Homo sapiens: one gene and its partners. The protein of the gene in region 2 interacts with the protein of the main gene of each other region in a pairwise test. Each region holds a gene or a part of one and is shown on either strand. Other genes may lie near its edges.

Region 1 (7,024 bases), on a different chromosome or scaffold from region 2:
CAACATGAAGAAGGATGAAGACCTTTATGATGATCCATTTCCACTTAATGAACAGTTAACATATTTTCTCCTTATGATTGTCCTAATATTTTTCTCTAGTTTATCCTAAGAATATAGTATATAATACATATAACATACAAAATATGTATTAATTGGCTATTTGTGTTATTGATAAGACTTCCAGTCAGTAGCAGGCTATTAGTAGTTAAGTTGTGGGGAGTTGAAAGTTATACTCAGATTTTCAACTGAGCTGGCACTTGGTGCCCTTAACCCCCAACATTGTTCAAGGGTCAAAAGCAGTTACAGAGGACACTGACATATTTGAGCACACATTATCTTCAACTTGGAATACATGGAATTAAAATTTGGGTTTGCAGTGTTCAAATTCTTAGTAAAATTTCCAGTGAAGTTAATTTTCACTATCCTTTATTCTTTCGTCTGCACATTATTCACAAAAGGGCTTTAAAATATTTTTTAAAGTAAAAAGAATCCATTATACTTAAATGGTAAATGGCGATGACTAATTTTTCTAGTATATTCAGGGTTATCATAATACTGAAAACACTGCCAAAGATATACTGCCTACACATTACTGTGCACCTACTGTATATACGGCAGCGGTCACCAACCTTTCTGGCACCAGGGACTGGTTTCATGGAAGACAATTTTTCCATGGACCGAGGTTGGGGGATGGTTTCGGGATGAAACTGTTCCACCTCAGATAATCAGGTATTAGATTCTCATAAGGAGTACACAACCTAGATCCCTTGAATGCACAGTTCACAATAGGGTTTGTGCTCCTATGAGAATCTAATGCTACTACTGATGTGACAGGAGGCAGAGCTCAGACAGTAATGGTCGATCACCCACCACTCACCCTGCACTGGGCGCAGCTCAGTTCCTAACAGGCCATGCACCAGAATCCGCACCCCAAGCACTGGGGACCCTGATATAAGGCACTCCCAGGTATAGAAATTTAAAATATGAAAATACCATGATCTCATGAAGTTTAATATTTACCATGTAGCATGAGATGTGTACTTTGCAGTAACAATAACTTGAATGTCAATAAATCAACCAATAAAAGAGGGTATGATTTTCTTGGTTGTGTGTGGTAATTAGAAGCTATGTGTAGATATGATATACAAAATAACACTACAAAAGTGAAAATGAATTAGAGTTAATCAAATAGGATGAATCTTAGAAACAGAGCTCAGTAAAAAAACAAAAAGAAAAAAAGGCCATATATATGATTTTTAAAATAAGCAAAATGAAACATATATTGTAACTTCTACTTCCACAATGACGAAATAGCTTCTATAGGACTAAAACTCCTACTGAGAACTAGAAAAACTCAATTTAAAGAAAACAAACAAGCTGTTTAAAAGTAGTAAAGAGCAACTGAGTGCTTGAAGGGCAAAGATCTCAGAGAGAAAGCAAATATACTGAGGCAAAGTCAATAGTCTCTACTTCTTTCTTCCTTGGGAGATTTTTAGACCCTAAACTGTGCTGTGACAAGCTAAGAAACTAAACAGAGAGCAACAGGTAAGAGCCTAAGAAACTAAGTAAACCCTCTGAAAGTACTCCTATGCTAGGGGGCCAAAATTTGGAGTCCAGATTCCACCACGAAAGAGATGGGCCTGGTAAACAACCCTAGCTTTAAGTCAAGATCTCCAAGGGACTATGTCCTAGGAGCATAAGAATAAAGGGAGGAAAAAAAAAAAATAGAACAGGACATACAAAAAAAAAAAAAACAAAAATTAGTCTCTAATCATATCAATGCTAAATTGGATTAAGGTTATCCATCCCTACATTAACTGCCTTCTGAAAGAAAATTAAATTCTCTCTGAAAAAAAAATAGCATCGAGAGCTTAATAAATTTTTACATATTATGTCCAACAATCAACTAAAAAAAAAAATCAAGCATGTCAAAAGGCAGAACCAAACACCAAGGGAGAAAAAACAGAAAACAAAATTTACCCATAGATAATCAAGATATTGGAGTTATTAGGCACAGTCCTTTAAATCATCTGTGATCAATACATTCAAAGAAAAAAAAGGTAAAGAATTTCACCTGACAACTAGAAAATAACAAGAATGAAGATAAAATATAAATTTTATAACTTAAATAAATAGATAACTTGGTAGGCTTAAAAGCAGATTCAATGCAGCAGAAGAGAGACCTGGAAGTTAATCTGTGGAAAGTATCCAATTTAAGCATAAAGAAAATCAAAGTAGGAGAAATACAGGAAAAAAAAAAAGAGACATGGGATGTAGTAAAAAGATCTATGGGATGGAGTCTCAGAAGAGGTGGGAAAACGGTACAGAAACATTATCTGAAGAGAAACTGGCCAAAAATATTTCAAAATTGACAGAAGACATCAAGCCACAGATTCAACAAATGCTACAAACCCCAAGCCAGATAAATATTACACTCAATCAAACCTGGACACACGGAAAAAATACTAACAACCAATGACTTAAAAAACAGCGAGAGGAGGATAAAAGACATTTTAACTTCAAAGAAGCAATAATAATCCTGAGAAATGATATTTTTAAACAGAAACCATGGAATCAGAATATCTTTAAAGTGTTGGGAGGTCAGGGGAACCAATACCTGTAAACTTAGAATTCTACACCCAGCAAAAATATTCAAAAATGGAGGCAAAAAAAAGACATTTTTCAGAGACAAAAAAAACTGAGAGAATGTATCATCAGCAGGACCTCACTAAAAGAAACACTAAAGACAATTCTTTAAGCAGAAGAAAAGTAACTCCAAAGATAATGCTGGAGACCTACAGGAAAGAAGGGCAATAGAAACGGTAAATATATAACAACAATAGCATATAAAGACTCTTAGTGTTTAAGGTCCTAATATTGTCCAAGAAGTGATAAACATATTATTCTAGTAAGCCAATGATGTATGTTATAATTTCTAGGATAACCACTAAGAAAATAATTGAAAAATGTATAACTAACAAGCCTATAGAGAATAAAAGCAAATAGGAAAGCAACAGATTAATCCAAAGAAGACAAGAAAGGAGAGGAAAAAAGACAAATACTAAGGCAATAGAAACTACCAAAACTGTAGATTGAAACACGAACATATCCTAACTACCTTAATAAAAAACGAACTATATACTCCAATTAAAAGACAGTTTTATCAAACTGGATTGAAAAATTAAAATTCAACTATATGCTGTTTTACAAGACACATGACTTAAATGTAAGTATACAAAAATGTCTAAATGGAAAAGGATATACATGCAAAAACTCATCGAAAGAAAGCTGATATAGATACAGTAGAGCCTAGGGCAGGAAACATTACTAAAGATAAAAAGACACATTATATAATAATAAATGGGTCAATCATACAGGAAAATGTAATAATTTTAAGTATGTGACCGCTGAAAGACATGGCCTTAAAACATACAAAACAAAACACAAAAGAGCATATACTATATGATTCCATTCATTAAAAACTTCCAAAAGTCAGCATACTGGTTACCTTTGGGGAAGTGTATTAATTTGGAGGGGGCACACAGGAAGCTATGAAGGTGCTATGAATGTTGTGTTTCTTGATCTGGGTAGTGGTTACAAAGGCATGTTCATTTGTTAAAATTCATAAAATCATTTGCTTATAATTTCTGTTATCTTTTGGTAGGTTGGTTATCCTTCCTTAAAAACAAACTATATTTTAAAAAAACAAAAAAAACAAAAAAAAAGCAAGAAAGTGATTTAAAATATTCAAGACAGTGATTACCTCCAGCAGGGACAAGAAGAAAGGACTGAACACGGAACACCTTGGGCTTTGACAGTATTGGTAACATTCCTTTCCTAAACTCGGTGGCTTATTCACTGTACTGTACTTTAGACACACTTTACATACATGCTTTAATATACATCTAAAATACTCGAGATTTTTAAGAAAGAAAATAATTCCTTATACACCGACATGTCAACAGTAGCTTGTCTGTGGTTAGGCTCTGGTTATTTTATTTTTATTATTTCTACTTTTCTGTTTTTTCCAATTTTTATAAAATCACCTGTATTTCTTGATAATTTTTTAAATACTAATTTTTACAAAGGAAAAATTTATCCCAATTCTCTACCTCAGTTGCCCATAAAACACTTTATATAAAACATATTTTATAATCCAAAGGTAAAATTCTAAATAGTTATACAATAATTGATGGGTAAATTAAATTATTAACAAATTATGAATAAACTTTTTAGAATGGATATGTTCTATAGCTTGATTGTGCTGATAGTAAAAGAGATACCGGTATTTATCAAAACTCACTTAATTGGACACTTAAAATGAATGTATCTTATCAGATGTAAATTACACCTTAATAAAGTTGATTTTAAAAACTATTATTGCATATACATTAGAAGCAATTAGATAAGAACACTTTACATACAGTACCTACAAATTCCACAGTTTTCACAGTGATACTGCTTCTTATCTTTGTCAAACAAATGGCATATATCGCAATAATATTCTCCAAACAATGTGCTACATTCTTCACAAGTCTGTTGGGCCTAAAAAAGAAACATAATTAAAAACTGCAATAAACTAAACATTTTGAGTTACCATTTGAATATCTAGAACTTATGTTCAACTATATGCAGTTTATTTTTATAAGTTTTGAAACACCTAAACCAAAGATATTGCTTATTCTAGAAGTTAAAGAAATCTTATTTATGATACTTTTGATTAAATTTTTTCAAACCACCTTAATACAGCTTTTAAAAAGAAAATAGAAATGTCATAAAATCTTACATGTTGAATTTTTTCACAGTTTATGCACTGCACTTCCTTCACTTTAAAGCGATCTAGTTGATGATCTTCATTGTTATCATGACACAAGCGGCAAGTATAAAGCTTGTCACAGCAAGGTGCCTAACACCCACGGAGAAAAAAGAGATATAGTAAGAAGCAAAAGAAACTAAGTGTGCAATACAAAAAGAAAATTTCTTCCTCCTCCTCCTGGATGGAACTGAAAGATTACAACCAATAGATCAGTTGCTAAACTGATCCTAAACATAACATTTCACTAGTTTCTTGGCATATTTTATGTTAATTCTTCCCTTCAACATCACTACGTCTGTATGAAGTTGAACACAACTTTAAAACAAAAGAATTATGAAGGAAATCCCTAGATTGAAACACTAATCCCACAACACCTGATATGCTTTGGCTGTGTTCCCACCCAAATCTCAACTTGAAATGTATCTCCCAGAATTCCCACGTGTTGTGGGAGGGACTTAGAAGGAGGTAACTGAATCATGGGGGCCAGACTCTCCCGTGCCATTCTCGTGATAATGAATAAAATCTCATGAGATCTGATGGGTTTATCAGGAGTTTCCACTTTTGCTTCTTCCTCATTTTCTATTGCCACCACCATGTAAGAAGTGCCTTTTGTCTCCCGCCATGATTCTCAGGCCTCCCTAGCCATGTGGAACTGTAAGTCCAATTAAACCTCTTTTTCTTCCCAGTCTTGGGTATGTCTTTATCAGCAGTGTGAAAACAGACTAATATAACACCCCAATTTCATTCTGAGCCTAAACAGCAAACAGGCAACCTCTTCTTAGACATTTCCAGATAAATTCATTTACATTAAAAATAATAAAGATTATATTCTTATTTTACTAGCTTTTATTAATCATCAACCTCATATCTAATATTGCACAAAATGCAACAAATGTAAGAGACAGCCCTTGTTTTCAAACACGGCAAAGACTGCCAGTTGTCCACCAAAATCTATCCTCTCCTTCCTGGGCACAATTGTTCAGCTATATCAGACAGATGGCCACATGCCCTAAAACATGACAAAATGATACAACAGAAAAATCTCATCCCTGGAGTGACCATGTGGAGCAAAGCCTCATCACCAACCTGCATCACTCGCCTTGGAATTGTTAAATGGAAAGAAATAAAACCTTTACTCTTTAATCTACATCACTGTTGGGTTTTTTCATTACAGCAACTTTACCATTACAAGTATATCAAGAGATTTCCAGGCCAGTGACTTTCCAATACACTGTGACCTTGCAGATCCACTCATTTCTGAAGGCTTCCTATGCCTTGACTTACCATAACGTAGTTCATTCCTTAAAGATTTTAACACTTAACTGGCTTCCTTTTTCTGCAACTCTCAGTTCCTTAACTTTGTCATTTCCAATAACCTTGTCCTCCAACCCACTATTCTCATAGTTATACCGCAGAACAGTAGTTCTCAAATGGTTTGGTCTCAGGATCCCTTCACACTTTTTAAAATTACTGAGAATCCCAAAGAGCTTTGGTTTATGTGGATTTTATCTATTGACATATACCACATCATAAATTAAAAAGAATAGGTTTTTAAAATATTACTTCTTTTTAAAAGTAACAAACTCATTACTTGTTAACATAAATAACATGTTTTAATGAAAAATAACTATATTTTTCCCCCCAAACAGCTGAATTCTTCTATCTGCTTATGCATTCAAACAGTTGTGGCTGAAGTACAAAAAGAAACTCTGGCCTCACACAAATATGTACACTGGAAAAGAAAGGAGTATTTTAATAGCCTTTTTGGAGAATTATGGATATCATTCTCTGATATTACACTAGAACAACAACTCTTAAAGGGTAGTTGCAACATGAAATCTGAAATCGTATCAAGGAATATGATTGATATGATGCCTCTTTTCTTCCTTGGTTACATTAAAATCTATTGCTCTATCTTGCACTTCAAATGGATGTTTTACTCATGCATTGGTCATCTGGAGAATACCAGTTCAGTGAGTTATTTACATCTTCTAAATGTTCACACATTTAACATGCAATATCAAAAAATCATATTCATTAAAAGTCTTTAGGTATTGAAGAAAATCTCACCAAAAAAAGTCTTTTAAAAAGCTTCCAACCTCACAAAAGCTAGTAAAAGTTTTCCAAAATTCTAATTTTTGTGTGAAAGCTTGAATTTTATCACTGGCAACAAATACTGTCATTTTCATTTGTAGTGAGTCTCACTTT
Region 2 (7,301 bases):
GCCTCCCAAAGTGCTGGGATAATAGGCGTGAGCCACCACACCTGGCCAGAAGCTATTGCTTCCTAACTCGAGCAGTATGGGCAATATCATCACTTGCATAACTTACCCTTATAACTAGTACATAATTTCTGTCAATCAATAGTTCAGATGATGTTAAATTTGATACACTGTGTTGGTTTTTTAATTACAGTTAACTACAAGCTAACTTCCAATATCTTTTAAAGTTACTTGAACTTTTGAAGAACAGCAGGTGTACGAATTAAATTTAAAACTTCTCCATAGTAGTTTGGCAAACCTGACACATCAGCTAACTGCTATCTCCTTTATACTTTAAAATGGTAAAGTCTGAATAAAACACTGACTCAGGAGGGCATGAATCTTATCTAAGCTTTATAAAGAAAAACGAAGCACACTAATGTAAAACATTAATAATTCCAACAGTTGAATGGGGCAGACACTTTAAAAGTGATCTATTATTTTTGCTGTCAGTCACTCATAAAGCCAGACAGAAAAATGTAAGAATTATCAAACTTCCAAACCACCTTTTTCCCTGTTCATGCACATATCTCCCTCGTACGTTGATACTTCCTTTGATGAGTTACCATAAATGTCGATCTTGTGACTGAAGTGTTTTTTAGTCAAGGAAAACTGATTATCCCAAAATTAAAGTGCAAAACGATAGCATGCCTGAGTAATAAAACATTAAAAACAAGTAACTCCTAAATCCTCCACACAAATGCAGAAACTTAAATATTTTTTCTCTCCCATTTTCTTCGAATCATTTTTTGGGGTGGAGGGAAATGCCTCCCAATATAGTAAATATATGAAAATGCTGGTAGCATACTTCTATATTCCTTGCCCCTCTGATACTTTCATCAATCACAAAAGACTAAGGAATTGAAAAATAGCAATTCATTTACAATAAATCTTAAGTAAAAAGACCAATATACTATGTGTTCTGGAACATAACCATATATTGTTAAATCTCTTTAACGAACAGACTGGAAATTCATTTATCACAGTCCGAAGTCCTCCCATTAACTTCCGATCCTTTTTCAGACTGCCAACTTTCAGCCACTGAAAACTTAAATATGCTTGCCCTCCTAAAATAATTCTGTCCTCTTGACAAAGGAAATCTAAGAAACTTTGAAAGAAAAAATACTTTATGAATGACTCATAAACAATTGATTCACAAAGTGTAAGTACGCTAAGAGGAAAATAAACATGAGCCAATGTATATACTGTTACTCTTTATATACCTTGAAATATTACAGAAGCTTGTGTTTGCAAGTTTTGATGGTAGTACAGCTCTAAAATAAAACCTCCGGCCGGGCGCGGTGGCTCACGCCTGTAATCCCAGCACTCTGGGAAGCCTGGGTGGGTGGATCACCTGAGGTGAGGAGTTCGAGACCAGACTGGCCAACGTGGTGAAACCCCCGTCTCTACTAATAATACAAAAAATTAGCCAGGCGTGGTGTTGCATGCCTGTAATCCCAGCTACTCGGGAGGCTGAGGCAGGAGAATCTCTTGAACCCGGGAGGTGGAGGTTGCAGTGAGCCGAGATTGCGCCACTGCACTCCAGCCTGGGTGACAAGAGCAAAACTCCGTCTGCAAAAAAAAAAAAGGAAGAGAAAAATAAAACCTCCTCCGGTAGAAAACAAGCTAATGAACCAACAAGTTTCAACGTTCAAAGTTAGAGGGGCTTCTTTCAGCGTTATTCTAGTCCATGGAGCTCAGCTGTGATGTAGACTGCTTACAGTAACCGGGAGCGGTTGCTTACTTCAGCCAACTGACAGCCCTTCTCCCTCAGCTGAGCAAAAACACGCCCCCTAAAAAGTAGTTTTTAAAAAGTCAACTTTCTAAAAAGAAATTTTAAAAAAATTGTAGTTACTATTTAACAAGACTACCATAAAATTCAGCGTCATGATGTTCAGTTACTTGAAAATTTATCAGGTATTTTTTAAAAATTCGTTTCTAAAATTTTTTTGCATTAGACCTTAGACCGCCTAAAAATAAGCTTAAAAACCTAGGAGAATAAACCAAACACATTTAAAGTTTTTGAAAATAGTCAAAGAAATAGAAGATAAGCTCAGTTTTCGGAGAATGAGATTAACAAGGAGCGAAAAACTTGAAACGGAATCCAGCGCAAGGCCAAGTTTAGCAAAGTGAGCGCTGAAGGACTCCAGACTCTTCGGAAACCTTGGGTGCTCCCTGGCCACCGCAACTTCCTGCCCCGGGCGGCTCCAGGCTCCGGGTGGCCGCTGGCTTACATACCAATGGAGTATGCAGGGACTGTACACGAAACGCAGAAGGGGAGGGAAAAGGCTGGAGTTGCTCTGCCTCCCTCCTGACCGCTGTCCACACCCGGGCAAGAAGGTATGCAGATCGCACCCCCAGAAAGGGCCTCGCCAAGTGTTTGCTTCCCAGAGTTGGCTTTCCCCACATCTCTGCCCAATGTTGTCCAGCTTTCAATAAGATCAAGGAGAAAAAGCCGAGTCCAGAAAGAAATCTTGCCCGAAGCCCTGTCCCTGTCTCGTCTGGCGACAGATCGGGGGCGGGGGGGATCGCTCACCCTCCGCTCCATTGTTCCCCCTTAAGAATTCCTTCCGACCCCCGACCCGGCGCCCCTCCCCCACCACAGCGGGCGGAGGAAAAAAACAGGCCCAGAGGCCACCCCAATTGTGGAGACCCTGCCTTTCCCAGGTCCCGCCTGACTCGCAGCCCCTCACTCACCCATCAAAATGCGCATCTGCTTCTTGCCAAATAGTCGGGAGAAGAGGGAGGAGATAGTGAGGCCCATGGCGGTAGTGGCACTTGTGATGGGCAGAAGCAGAAGGGGTTTGGGGCGACCCCGTGCTTTCTCCTTTCAAGCTCCCAGGCAAACTAAACGAGAGGGAAGAGAAAGAGCGGAGGAAGAAAGAGGGAGGCAGAAACGTCTCAGTGGCCCCTGTGCCGATGAAGATCCGGCACAGGAATAAGCCGGTAGAGGACCTGCTAGGCGACTGGCGCGGCAGCTCCGGCTCTAGCCTTTAGGCTCTGGCTGTGCCACGTCACGCGGCGGCCGCGGCGACTCCAGCAGCGGCCCGGCCCCTCCAACGCGGACAGAATCGCGTCACCGCCGCCCCATCCCCCTGCGCTTCCGGTGCGCCCGAGCCACTGCGCTTGCGCCTGCAGGGGATTGGCCAGTTTCGCTGACGAGCATCTCTCGACGGCGCCACCGCCCGGACGTGGCCCCAGGAGCCGGGAGAGGCCGGCTGAGGCACATGCGTACTGGGAGACGGACAAAGTCCCACAATACCTCGCTTCGTCACTGCCAAATCAGACTCAGGGTGAGACGCTTCCGCCCGGATGAAGGTATTGTCGGGGTGATAGTCCTTGCTTCCGGAAAGGCGAGCTGAGCATTATGGGTTAGGTGAGGAACCTCGCCCTCTTCTATTACGGTACGCGCGATGGGTATTCCCTGATGCCATGAACTTACACGTTTCACACACGGGACCAGACGCTTGCTTTAGTTGACGCATGAAGACCGGTCCGGTCTTTTGCGGAGAAAAGTGGTTAAAAGCTGACTTGTGGGCCGAGAAACTGTGGCACCCTAATGAGCTAGGGCTAGACGCTTCGACCACCACGCCAAGTGATTCTGAAGATCTCTAATTCTGTCAAGGCGAGAGCGCTCCAACACGTGTTCATCGGCTGTTGCTTTTTAAAGAGAAGGCAAGGAGGAAGTCTTGCTTTTCTTGTACTTTTTTTCCTAGAAGCAGCATTAAAGATTTACTCCTTATGTTGAGGAAGCGGAAAGCCTCTTCACTTTAAAAGTGTTTATGATCGGGCCTGGCGCGGTGACTCACCGCGCCCGGCCTGCTACACCTTTTAAAATTCACAGCAATGATAAATGTATTAGACTCATTGCCAGGATAAAGATTTAATCTATTTTTCTAGTAGTGCCGTCCTATGTGGTTCTGTAGTTGCTTATTCCAACTGGTATATTTCCATAGGATGGGGTTGAATAAGAAAAACTTGCAAACTTTCAGAAACAGTAAGTTATTTTTATATTTTTGAAGGCTTGCTGAGTAACGCTTCTCTTGGTAGCACTACCTTATCTACCCTTCAGAGACTGTTATTTCTTAGGAGTGGCCCTGGGCAATTAAAAGCAAAAACTTCTGGCCGGGCATAGTGGCTCATGCCTGTAATCCCAGCACTTTGGGAGGCCGAGGCGGGCAGATTACGAGGTCAGGAGATCGAGACCATCCTGGCTAACACGGTGAAACCCAGTCTCTACTAAAAATAGAATAAATTAACCGGGCGTGGTGGCGGGTGCCTATACTCCCAGCTACTCCGGAGGCTGAGGCAGAAGAATGGCGTGAACCCGGGAGGCGGAGGTTGCAGTGAGCGGAGATCGCGCCCCTGCACTCCAGCCTGGGCGACAGAGCGAGACTGTCTTAAAAAAACAAACAACAACAACAAAAAAACCCCAAAAACTTCTTTACTCAGAAGTACCCTCCTTTGCATTGGAGATACATGTAAAGAGTTGCTTAGCAGTTGAATAACTCAAAATTGCATTTTGGAAGCTTGCTAAGTGACAAGACCTTCTTGTATCCTTTTGTGAACCCCCAAAATATGAGACAGGCCTCAGTTAATTTAGAAAGTTAATTTTGCCAAAGTTGAGGACACGCGTCCATGACATAGCCTCAGGAGGTCTTGTAGACATGTGCCCAAGGTGATCAGAGCACGGTTTGGTTTTATACATTCTAGGGAGAAATGAGACATCAATCAATATATGTAAGATGAACATTGGTTCATTCTGGAAAGACTGGACAACTCAAAGCAAAGGCAGGAAGACTCTGAGTGGGGAGGGAGCTTCCAGGGCATAGATAGATAAGAGACAAATGGTTGCATTCCTTTGAGTTTCTGATTAGCCTCTCCAAAGGAGGCAGTCAGATATGCGTTTATCTCAGTGAGCAGAGGGGTGACTTTTTAAAGAATGGGAGGCAGGTTGGCCCTAAGCAGTTCCCAGCTTGACTTTTCTCTTTAGCTTAGTGAGGTGGAGGCCCCAAGATTTATTTTCCTTTCACACTTTAGGCCTTATGTCTGTTTTTAGTTTTATATAGTAGAATTCCTTAAAACAATCTTCAACTAATTCTTAGGGTCTTCTTAAATTCAAAAGACAAACCGTATGAGCCCTCCTCCCTGTAACTTATTCCAAATCTTAATCCATGTTTTCTGTTTAGTTATGCAAAATAAATCGAAAGAATTCTGTTCTCCATCTCTAGCCTCCAAAACCTGAACCAAAACAAAAGTTGTCAAAACAGATTTTTCAGTAAGAATACACTACACATCAAGTGGCTAATGTAAATTACAAAACAGGATGTTAATGGCAGACTGTAATATCTCTATTGTACAGATAAAAATAATCAGGGTCAGAGAGATTAAATATTCTGCCCAAGGTCACACAGCTAAAAGCAGTGGAACAGCTATAAGAACCCATTTCTTCTGGTATTAACTGGTATTTACACTCTTTTTTTTTTTTTTTTTTTAATAAATAAGTGGATTCTGGCTATGTTGCCCAGGCCTGTCTGGAACTCCTGGGCCCAAGCAATCCTTCCACCTCAGCCTCCAAAGTGTTGGGATTACAGGTGTGAGCCAGTGCACCCAGCCATTAACACTCTTAACCACTACACTATACTACCTTCTTACATTTATTTATTTATTTATTTGAGACAGGGTCTCACTTTGTCACCCAAGCTGAAGTACAGTGGCATCATCTCGGCTTACTCAACCTCCTGGGATCAAGTGATCCTCCCACCTCAGCCCCCAAAGTAGCTGGGACTACAGGTACACCACCACATTGGCTAAGTAGTGTTATTTTTTGTAGAGACAGGGTTTTGCTATGTTGCCAAGGCTGGTCTCAAACTCCTGAGCTCAACCAATCTGTCTGCCTTGGCCTCCCAAAGTACTGGGATTATGGGCCTGAGCCACTGTTCCCGGCCAAATTCTTTTCTTTTCTCTTTTCTTTTTCTTTCTTTCCTTTCTTTTCTTTCTTTCTCTTTCTTTTCTTTCCTTCATCCTTCCCTCCCCTTCCTTTCCTTTCCCTTTTCCCCTCCCTTCCCCCTTCTGTTCCCTTTTCCCTTCCCTTTTCCCTCCTCTCCCTTCCCCTCCCCTCCCTTTTTCCTCCTGCCTCAGCCTCCCAAGTAGCTGGGACCACAGACATATTCCACCATGCCCAGCTATTTTATGTATTTTTGGTAGAGTTGGCGTTTTGTAGAGACCAGCATGTTGCCCAAGCTGGTATCCAGCTGCTGAGCTCAGGCGATCTACTCGCCTTGGCCTCCCAAAGTGTTGGTAGTAGAGGTGTGAGCCACCGTGCCCAGACCCCAAATTTATTTTTATTTTATTTTATTTTTCTAGGTCAGGCATGGTGGCTCACACCTGTAATCCCAGCATGTTGGGAGGCCAAGATGGGAGACTCACTTGAGCCCAGAAGTTCCAGACCAGCCTTGGCAATATAGTGAGATGCCATTTCTATTTTAAAAAATATTTTAAAAATAAAATATTTTTCTATTCACCTTTCATCAATACAAACCCAGAAGAGAATCTTTCTTATTTTTAAAAATGAGGAAATTGAGCCCTACAAGAAAAATTGCTATAGTTTATTGATCACTTGCTAAGCCATGTACTTCATTTAATCATCGCTTTTGAACACAGTGTTGTATAAAGTTGCCCAGGCTCAAAAGCATGTACTCATAACATACTACACTAGGTAGTATGTTTTCCTCATCTCTGGTTATTTTATTTTATTTTTTTTTGCTCTGTCACCTAGGCTGGAGTGCAGTGGGGCGATCTTGGCTCACTGTAGCCTCTGCCTCCTGGGTTCCAGCGATTCTCCTGTATCAGCCTCCGGGGTAGCTGGAATTACAGGCACATGCCACTGCGCCCGGCTAATTTTTGTATTTTTAGCAGAGAGGGGGTTTCACCATGTTGGCCAGGCTGGTCTCGAACTCCTGACCTAGGTGGTCCACCCACCTCGGCCTCCCAAAATGCTGGGATTACAGGTGTGAGCCACCGCGCCCAGCCTCTGACTATTTTTCTTAGTGAGATCTTTTTAGTCACAAATATGTATATGGAATTTACATTCCAGTCCCTTGGGTTTAATAATGTACAGACAGCAGACCCCCTGTATCTTCAGGTTTCAAACCCACAGATTCAGCCAATAGCAGATGTGGAACCTGCAGATGCAGAATGGCAACTGTAAGGGCCTTGAGCATCTGCAGATTTTGGTATCACGGGGATCCTGGAACCAATCTCCC
Region 3 (7,956 bases), on a different chromosome or scaffold from region 2:
TTGTAGTCACCAGATCTTGCTCTATCCTCAATCAGCCATGTGGTTTGGGGAGGATTGACCCAGCTCCAGGACTGGGAGCTGATTGGTTTAAGTTAGTCAGTGTAACCCAAGCCCCTGGCCATGGAGTATGGTTCAGAGAATGGGATTACAACCATTTTTAAAAGTCAATATGTTCCCATGACATTATTTACTCAAAAACTTCATTTTCAGAGGTAGAATTACCATATGGGGCACCAGAATGTCTTCCAATGTATCAGATAAACACATAGTACAAAATTCTGGTTGGACTCATTAAAGGGCACAGTGGGAGAAAAAGAGAAGGAGCCTGACCTTGTTTGCAGAATAAAAAAGAAAAGAAGGGCATTATTTCTCTGGACAGATTTCATGCCCAGAGAAAAAGCTGGTGAAATAAGCATCTGTATATACAAGCAAATTTATTGAAGTTTATGATACATACATGTCATAATTGTGTATTTCTTTCATACACTTTAAATCCTGTGACCAAAAAGGCTATACAATATGTTAGGAATTATGCTGGATTATTAAATATTAGCAGAACTGAAATCCTCAAGAGAAACCAGATTACCGAAGGTTGTTCTATGCTTGTCTTACATACAACCTCAGCTCATAAACTCAAGGACTGATACAGAAAGAGGGTAATCACTAAAGAACTTGAAATCAAGGAAAAGTATCAACTTATGTCAGAAGAAGGATGTCTAATTTAAGCTATCCAGAACCATATCAAAAGCTGGAAGATATGGTCACACTCTTGCAGAGTTTGAATGGATGTAGTGAATCATGGAATCTTCAAGTCTTTGTTGATAAAAATAACCCTAAATGAATAAAAGTTTTTGAATCTCTGTCCTTTTACCAAGTGACCAACAGTGCTTGTGACGGTAACATATACAGATACTCCTTGACTTATGGTGGGGTTACATAAGTCAAAAATGCATTTAAGGCCAAGCACAGTGGCTCACGCCTGTAATCCCAGCACTTTGGGAGGCCAGGGCGGGTGGATCACTTGAAGTCAGGAGTTTGAGACCAGCCTGGCCAAAATGGTGAAACCCTGTCTCTACTAAAAATACAAAAATTAGCCGGGCATGGTGGTGGGCGCCTATAGTCCCAGCTACTAGGGAGGCTGAGGCAGGAGAATCGCTTGAACCCGGGAGGCAGAGGTTGCAGTGACCCAAGACTGCACCACTGTACTCCAGCCTGGGCAACAGAGTGAGGCACTGACAAAAAAAAAAATTAATACCCTGATAAGCCCAAAAGTAAGGTCAAAAACTTCTAAGTCGAACCATCATAAGACAGGAACCGTCTGTATTGGTATAGTGTAGGCTGATGGAGTTTGGGACCTCAGAGATTAAACTAAAGGAGATTATCTATGAGCCATTGGGAGACATACTTAAGTTTGCCAATAATATGAGGTTTTATACTGGCATGCACGGAGACTTTAGGTGCACATGCAGTGGTGGTTAAGGCTTTACTTTAAACCCAAGTCACTTGGCACAGTGTCTATACTATTGTTACCTGCTTCAATGGTTGGCAGGTTGCCAGTGTTTTATTTTTAGTGACATGGTCTTGCTCTATCACCCAGGCAGAAATGCTATGGCACAATTATAGCTTACTGCAGCCTCAACCTCCTGGATTAAAGCAATCCTCCCATCTCAGCCTCCCAAGTAGCTAGGACTGCAGGAATTCGCCACCATGCCCACTAATTTTTTTTTTTTTTTGAGAGACGGGGGTCTTACTATGTTGCCCAAGCTGGTCTTGAACTCCCCAGCAATCCTCCCACGTTGGCCTCCCAAAGTGCTGGGATTACAGGCATGAGCCACCATGCCTGGCTGCCAGTATTTTATATACTGCTTCCTGAAACACTTGAATAGCAGTTTCGACCCTGTTAACAGGAGAAGGTGGATTGGAGTGGTGGATTGGAGTGCCTTATAAGAGATCTACTAAAAAGAAAAACATCAATAAAGCAGGCACAGGAAATCTATAAATAGAATAGAACAAGACCAAAGGAGGGATTAAGACATGGATCTACATGCCATATGGATCCACTCATTTCCTACAATGATCTGAAAATTTGGCTTTGAGTTTCCTGCCAGCGAAGGCACAGAGTAACAAGAGCACTTAAGACAATGATTCATGCTATCCAGAAGAAATAGGAATATGTGTTTTTCATGGGGGTGGGGGAGGGAGGGAAATTTCCACATATGAACATTTGGTAAGTAATTAGTTTTGGAGGTCTCTAAGCTACCATTATAACTAACAATTATTACCTTTCTTTATATGGCACTGAATACTTTGCAGAGAAATTTCACATAACTTTCTTTACACAAAAATCCTGCGAGGTAAGATTCCAGGATATTATTAAAGCAATAATGTAACCCTTATTCATGCATCTAAGAACCTAGTCTAACTGGAAAGGCAACACAAAAAGTAGAAAATAAGCAGAAAGATCTCTGAGATAGCAAACCAAATGGCAATAAGTGTATGCACAGAAAAGAGCCTCTCACTCAGAACCTATATTCTCTTATTTAACCTGAAATTCTAACAGGGTTCATTTCCTTCCTAAAACTGCAGTGGATTAAAAGTAACAAAACAGAAACTATTACAGAGAAGCACTCTGAAAGCCTCCTAGATGCGTACACAGGAGAGCAGAGGCAAGAACTAAAAACAATCAAAAGAGCAGTTAGTGCAAAAACAGAAAACCCTAAACACTCACTAAGTAGGATAAGCTCAGACTCTCTCCGCCCTGGATCCTGACCCTCCACGAATCAGTTCCTCACAAACCACCTCAGCCATCTTTCAGGAACGGAAATGTGATCCTGCTTGCCTGCTCCCAACTCTTGGCAACCCTTCATTGACTTTCCAGGCTCATAAGACAAAATCATTATTTAAAAACGGTCCACAAAGTCTGCCTGCCTCTCCAGTCTCATCTCACTTCGGCCCCACCTGCTTGGGCCTTTTCACATTTCCTTCCCTTTACCTGGAAGTGTCTCAATGCTGCCTCTCCTGGGGGATCTGAAATGTCATTTCCTTAGAAAGCCTTACCTAGTCCCAGAGTCCACATTAGGTTTTCCCGTGCACCTTAGCGCCTTTGCAGTTGAGAATTTATCACAGTTGCACTTAGTCTGATTGTTTTATTTGTTTGTTTGTTTTTTGAGACACCAAGGCTGGAGTGCAGTAGCGCGATCTCGGCTCACTGCAACCTCCGCCTCCCGGTTCAAGCATTCTCGTGCCTCAGCTTCCCGAGTAGCTAGGATTACAGGCGTGCACCAACACGCCCGGCTAATTTTTGTGTTTTTAGTAGAGACAGGGTTTCGCCATGTTGACCAGGCTGATCTCAAACTTTTGGCCTAAAGTGATCTGCTGGACTCAGCCTCCCAAAGTGCTGGGATTACAGGCGTGAGCCACCGCGCCTGGCCAGTCTGATAGTTGAATACCTATTTCCTTCAGCGTACTGTGAGCTCTGGTGGAAAAGGACCATGTCTGGCTCGTACATATGCCAAATAAGTATTCACCGGAAAAAATATGAGTAATGTCACAGGACAAGCAGACATCTTCCTAGTATATAATTTTAAATTTTACTAAAATCTTTTTGAGAAGGTAGCTATTGTTTTATTAAAGCAAAAAAAAATTACAAAGTACAATGCAAAATTCATATGAATTTTAAAGCTAAAACAAGACTTTCAGAATGCTTTAGGCTACACCCCCAGACTTCTCTAGAGACGTGCTTAAAATAATATGGAAACACGGTGTGGTAAAAGATCCATTTCCCAAGGGATCTGGATAACCAGCGCTTATCTTCATTTTACTGGAGAATACATGTGCGGAGAGGGCTTTGCAAACTACAAGGCTTTGTGCATTATAACATTATTATGGAAAAATCTGTGTTTCTAAGAGGGGGAATGATTTAGCTATTGCATTGCCAATTACAGGTGGGGCTGGCGCCAGAGCCCAGGCCTCCCGGGGCCTGTCTAGCCCACAGCTTTTCATTAATGCACAGCACTTGCCACCTGGTCCCTGCCGCAAAGGGTGGCCTCTCGAGTTAGGAGCCATATCTAGGGCGGATGGCCTGTGCTAGGCTCAAAGACACTTAAGTTCCGATCAACCAGAACTGAGGAGCGGGTAGGAAAACCAAGCCGAGCCTTCCTCGGCTTCACAATCCGCAGGCTCTCCGCTGTCCCCGGCGGGACTCGGCAGTTCCCCTGGAGGGCTGCAGCCCGGCTGTCTTCGCTCAGGCCCAAGCCCGCGCGGCTCTCCCCCTGGCGGAGAACTCGCAGGACTGCGACGCATTCCGGAGACGCCGTCAATCTCCGAATTTGAAGCGCAGGCGATATCTAAGGGGCCTGGGAAGCGGGAAAGCTCGGGAGTCACTCCGGAGAGAACACCCTGCAGGAGTCGACGCGGCTGCCTGGCTTCGTGGTCCTGCAGCGTGGCCCGTTGCTTCGCGCAGAGGTTGGCCACAGCTGCTGGCTAGGAAACTGGGGACCACCTGGGTTGCCACCGAGGAGGGTGGAGGCCCCCGTCAGTCCCCTCGGGGATGCAGCTGCATTTTCCCCTCCTTGCGTCCGGCCGGGAGCCAGAGGATGGGGCTGTGGAACCCATTCCGAAAGGCAGGGCGGGCCCTTCGGAACCCGGACGCGAGGGAAGGCGAGAGGCGCGGGTGTGCCGCACGCCCACCGGCGCCGGGGCAGGGGCGCTGCAGCCGGCGGCCCACGGAGGACATCAGCGGTGCCGCCGCCGCCGCCGCGGGCTCGCGGGCCGCGCGCGCACGCGAGTGGGCGAGGGAGGCAGGGGCGCTACTAGCAGGCGGCGTGCGCGCGCGCGCTCCCCCGCGCCCTCCCTCGCAGGCCCGCCCGGCCCCAGCGCGCGTCACGAGGGGCCAGCGAGCTAGCTGGAGGGCGGGAGGGAGGGTGGGGAAAGGGGGTGGGGCCGCGAGACCGGAGGGGTCCGAGCAGCGGCTGCGGAGCCGGAGCTGGGCGAGGGCGGCTGCGGTCCCGGCGGCGGCGGCGGCGGCGGCAGCTGCGGCGGGAGAAGATGGTGGCGCTGGAGGCAGCAGCGGCTGGAGCGGAGCTTTATTCCCAGGCTTGGCACCAGCGCTGTCACTAGCGCCGCCTGCTCCCGCGGGCCCGCGGACCCAGCTGTCAGGCAAGGTACCACAGCCAGGGAGGGGTGGGTGAGAAGGGGTGCCCGGCGCTGATGCGGCCCCCGACGGAGCCCGGGTCCTCGCCAAAGGGCGCCCCCGGACGCGAGAGGGGCTGCCTGGAACAATAGTGCGGAGGAGCGGAGGCAGCAGGCGACATCCAGGAGGCAGTGCCTGGAACCATCAGCTAGCGAGGCGGGGGAAGGCGGCGTTGCGAGCGAGACGCCTGGGGTCCGGTGCCCGCTGAGATGCCGGGCTTCGGGCGCAGCAGGCGGGCCTGATGACAGTCATGGCAGGAGTGAGTGTGTGAGAGTGTGTGTGTAAAAGGTACAGCAGAGGGGATGGGGTGGCGGACGGAGGTGTTGGGGGGTGACATTTCCAGGAATCCCCGCTAGGACCCCCTCATCTCTCGGCTGACTCTCCTGGAGAAAGAATGTGATGATGGAAACGGTGAGGTGGGCAGGATGCACTTGGTGTGTGAAGTGTGGAGGGAGGCAGTGGGATAGGGGCCGGTTTGTAAAATCCTGTATATGTGTGTGTACGCGTGTGGTTGCATCCACGTTCCCCAAACTGCGCCCCAAATCCAGAGATCTGCCGCTGCCCTTACTTGATGTCACCGGCTAAGACTGTGGGACAGTGTTTGTTATTTTGACCCTGCAACTCTGAGCACAGTGTCTGTTCTGCTCCTGCGTGTGGATGGCCCAGTGTAGGGATTCTCGCTTCCCCTTCCTCTGGCCTCATGACATGGGGATGTGGAAGTGAGCATGTTGCTTTGAGGCACATGGCAGGGAAATAGGATAACCGTTACACATTCTGGGCTTGCTAATGTACCTGGTTTTGAAGGGGCCTTCCATCCTGTGATACTACTTCTCTCCTTAGCACCTGTTCCATAAGGGTCTTGTACTCCCTGACTGTGCAGTTTCTATTGTTTTTCTCTTGTCTGACCAGAAGGAGAAGGATGTTGAATGATCAGATTCCTCTTCCTGTCCCCACAACTTTCAATGCTAGCTAGACCTTCTCCTTCCACATTTAAGCACTGAAAACCTTATGGCTAGAGGATGGATGGTCTTTGTGTTGGTTCTTTTAGAATGAACTCTGGAGGTGTATACGTATAGAGAGATGCGGTGGGGCGGGGGGCGGTCTTTTAAAAAGAAGAAAAATATCACACGGAGAAATGTTTGGTGCCCACTTGGTCAGCATCACACAGCCAGGGCGTTTTCCTCAGGAAACAGGATACTTTATTTCTACTGCTGGTGACATCCACTCTCCCAGCTGTCACAATAGCTAGGTGGTGCCGTGTATCATTTGGAAACTGAAATCTCCTGAGACCCACAGCGATGGGGTCCCAGGTCAGTAAAGTCCCTGCTTTCCTACCTGATAGAGCCCACTAGTAGGGAATTTGGAAAAATGTCAGGCTGGCAACAACTCACCCAGTGGGAACAAGGACACAGAAATGCATCCAGAGTCTATGGCTGTTTAATTGTCTCTGCGTGGTAAAGATAGGTGTGTGTAGGTAGGGTTGGGTAGAGGTAGGCAGGGAGATGGCATATTCATGTGTATCCAGGGCAGTGTGATTCCCCCTCACCTATGTTTCTCCTGCGGTATTCATAGGAATGAGTGCACTTTACACTTAATATCTCGACACTTCTTTATTAAAATGTTGTATGACTAGCTTAATCTGCTTAGGACATGTTTTAGTCATAACACCTTAAATTCTACTGCATTGTCGGAATCCAAACTGGCTGCCCGGTTCTCTTCGAAAAGCCCGTAGCAGTCATGGCTACACAAGTAAATATACAACATGTTGGCACCAGAGATTTATTTTTCTTTTTTAAAATTTTTGTTTTGCTTTCTTTTATGGGCAAAGATTGCATGATATCGTTGTGAAAATAATAAAACTAGGGCTATCCACATATGCTTTTTTTTCTTCCCATGTATCTTATTTAATGATATATAGACAAGGTGCTCTTGAAGCTGTCTATGTAAAGTAAATTTCCCCATGTTCTTCAAGTCAAGCCTTCTAAGATTTTAATGTGAGGTTGGTTGTTGGCTGTCATCCAAGATTTAAGGATAGATTTATAAAAATGAATTTTGAATCTTAGTTCTTTACTCTCTTATTTGTTATGCCAAATGTCTTTCTGAGAAAAGTACTTAGGGAATTTAAAAGCCATTCTAAGAGATTTTGGTTTAAAAAAAAGTCATCATCCTTTATATTTGCAAGTAAGACCAGGGATGTAAATGTCTCACAAGAAAGTTTAATAATATGAGGAATTACCAGGTAAATACCCTGTTTAGAGAAAGAGGAATTACACAGCAGCAAAATCGATGACTCAGGAATCAGTTCTTTTCTAATGTAAATGTGATCATTTTTATTTTTATTTGTCTTTTTGAGACAGGATCTTCCTCTGTCGCCCAGGCTGGAGTGCAGTAGTGTGATCATAGCTCACTGCAGCCTCAAACTCCTAGCTCAAGCAATCCTCCTGCCTCAGCCTCCTGAGTAGCTGGGACAATAGGCACATGGCACCACACCCAGATATTTGTTTATTTTTTTCAGAGATAGAGTCTCGCTATGCTGCCCAGGCTGATAGTTTTAAAAATGCAATATCTGGCTTTTCTAAAGATCGGACTGGTATAAGGTTAATGAGACAGCTCTAATAAATGGTGGTACCTTTTGCTGTGGCCTGCAGCAAGCCATTTTTTGTGCATGGATGCCTTTCCTTCACTTAAAGTAGCATCAGTGCTTTTCTCTTCCATTATTGAGCCTCTTAAGGTTTTTTGTTGTTGTTGTTTTGTTTTGTTTTGTT

What was found.
Region 1: the proteins of ARF4 (region 2) and RCHY1 interact in binary tests that used the Homo sapiens proteins (3 or more experiments, as listed by UniProt).
Region 3: the proteins of ARF4 (region 2) and APBA1 interact in a two-hybrid assay, tested with the Homo sapiens proteins (one study listed by BioGRID).

What each region holds. Positions count from the first base shown.
Region 1 is NC_000004.12:75,504,391-75,511,414, forward strand, and holds part of RCHY1 (RING finger and CHY zinc finger domain-containing protein 1), read right to left. Parts: intron 4,907-7,024; coding exon 4,787-4,906; intron 4,546-4,786; coding exon 4,430-4,545; intron 1-4,429. UniProt on the Homo sapiens protein: E3 ubiquitin-protein ligase that mediates ubiquitination of target proteins, including p53/TP53, TP73, HDAC1 and CDKN1B. Mediates ubiquitination and degradation of p53/TP53; preferentially acts on tetrameric p53/TP53.
Region 2 is NC_000003.12:57,594,341-57,601,641, forward strand, and holds the start of ARF4 (ADP-ribosylation factor 4), read right to left. Parts: upstream 3,005-7,301; 5' UTR 2,801-3,004; coding exon 2,734-2,800; intron 1-2,733.
Region 3 is NC_000009.12:69,669,359-69,677,314, reverse strand, and holds the start of APBA1 (amyloid-beta A4 precursor protein-binding family A member 1), read left to right. Parts: upstream 1-4,943; 5' UTR 4,944-5,162; intron 5,163-7,956. UniProt on the Homo sapiens protein: Putative function in synaptic vesicle exocytosis by binding to Munc18-1, an essential component of the synaptic vesicle exocytotic machinery. May modulate processing of the amyloid-beta precursor protein (APP) and hence formation of APP-beta.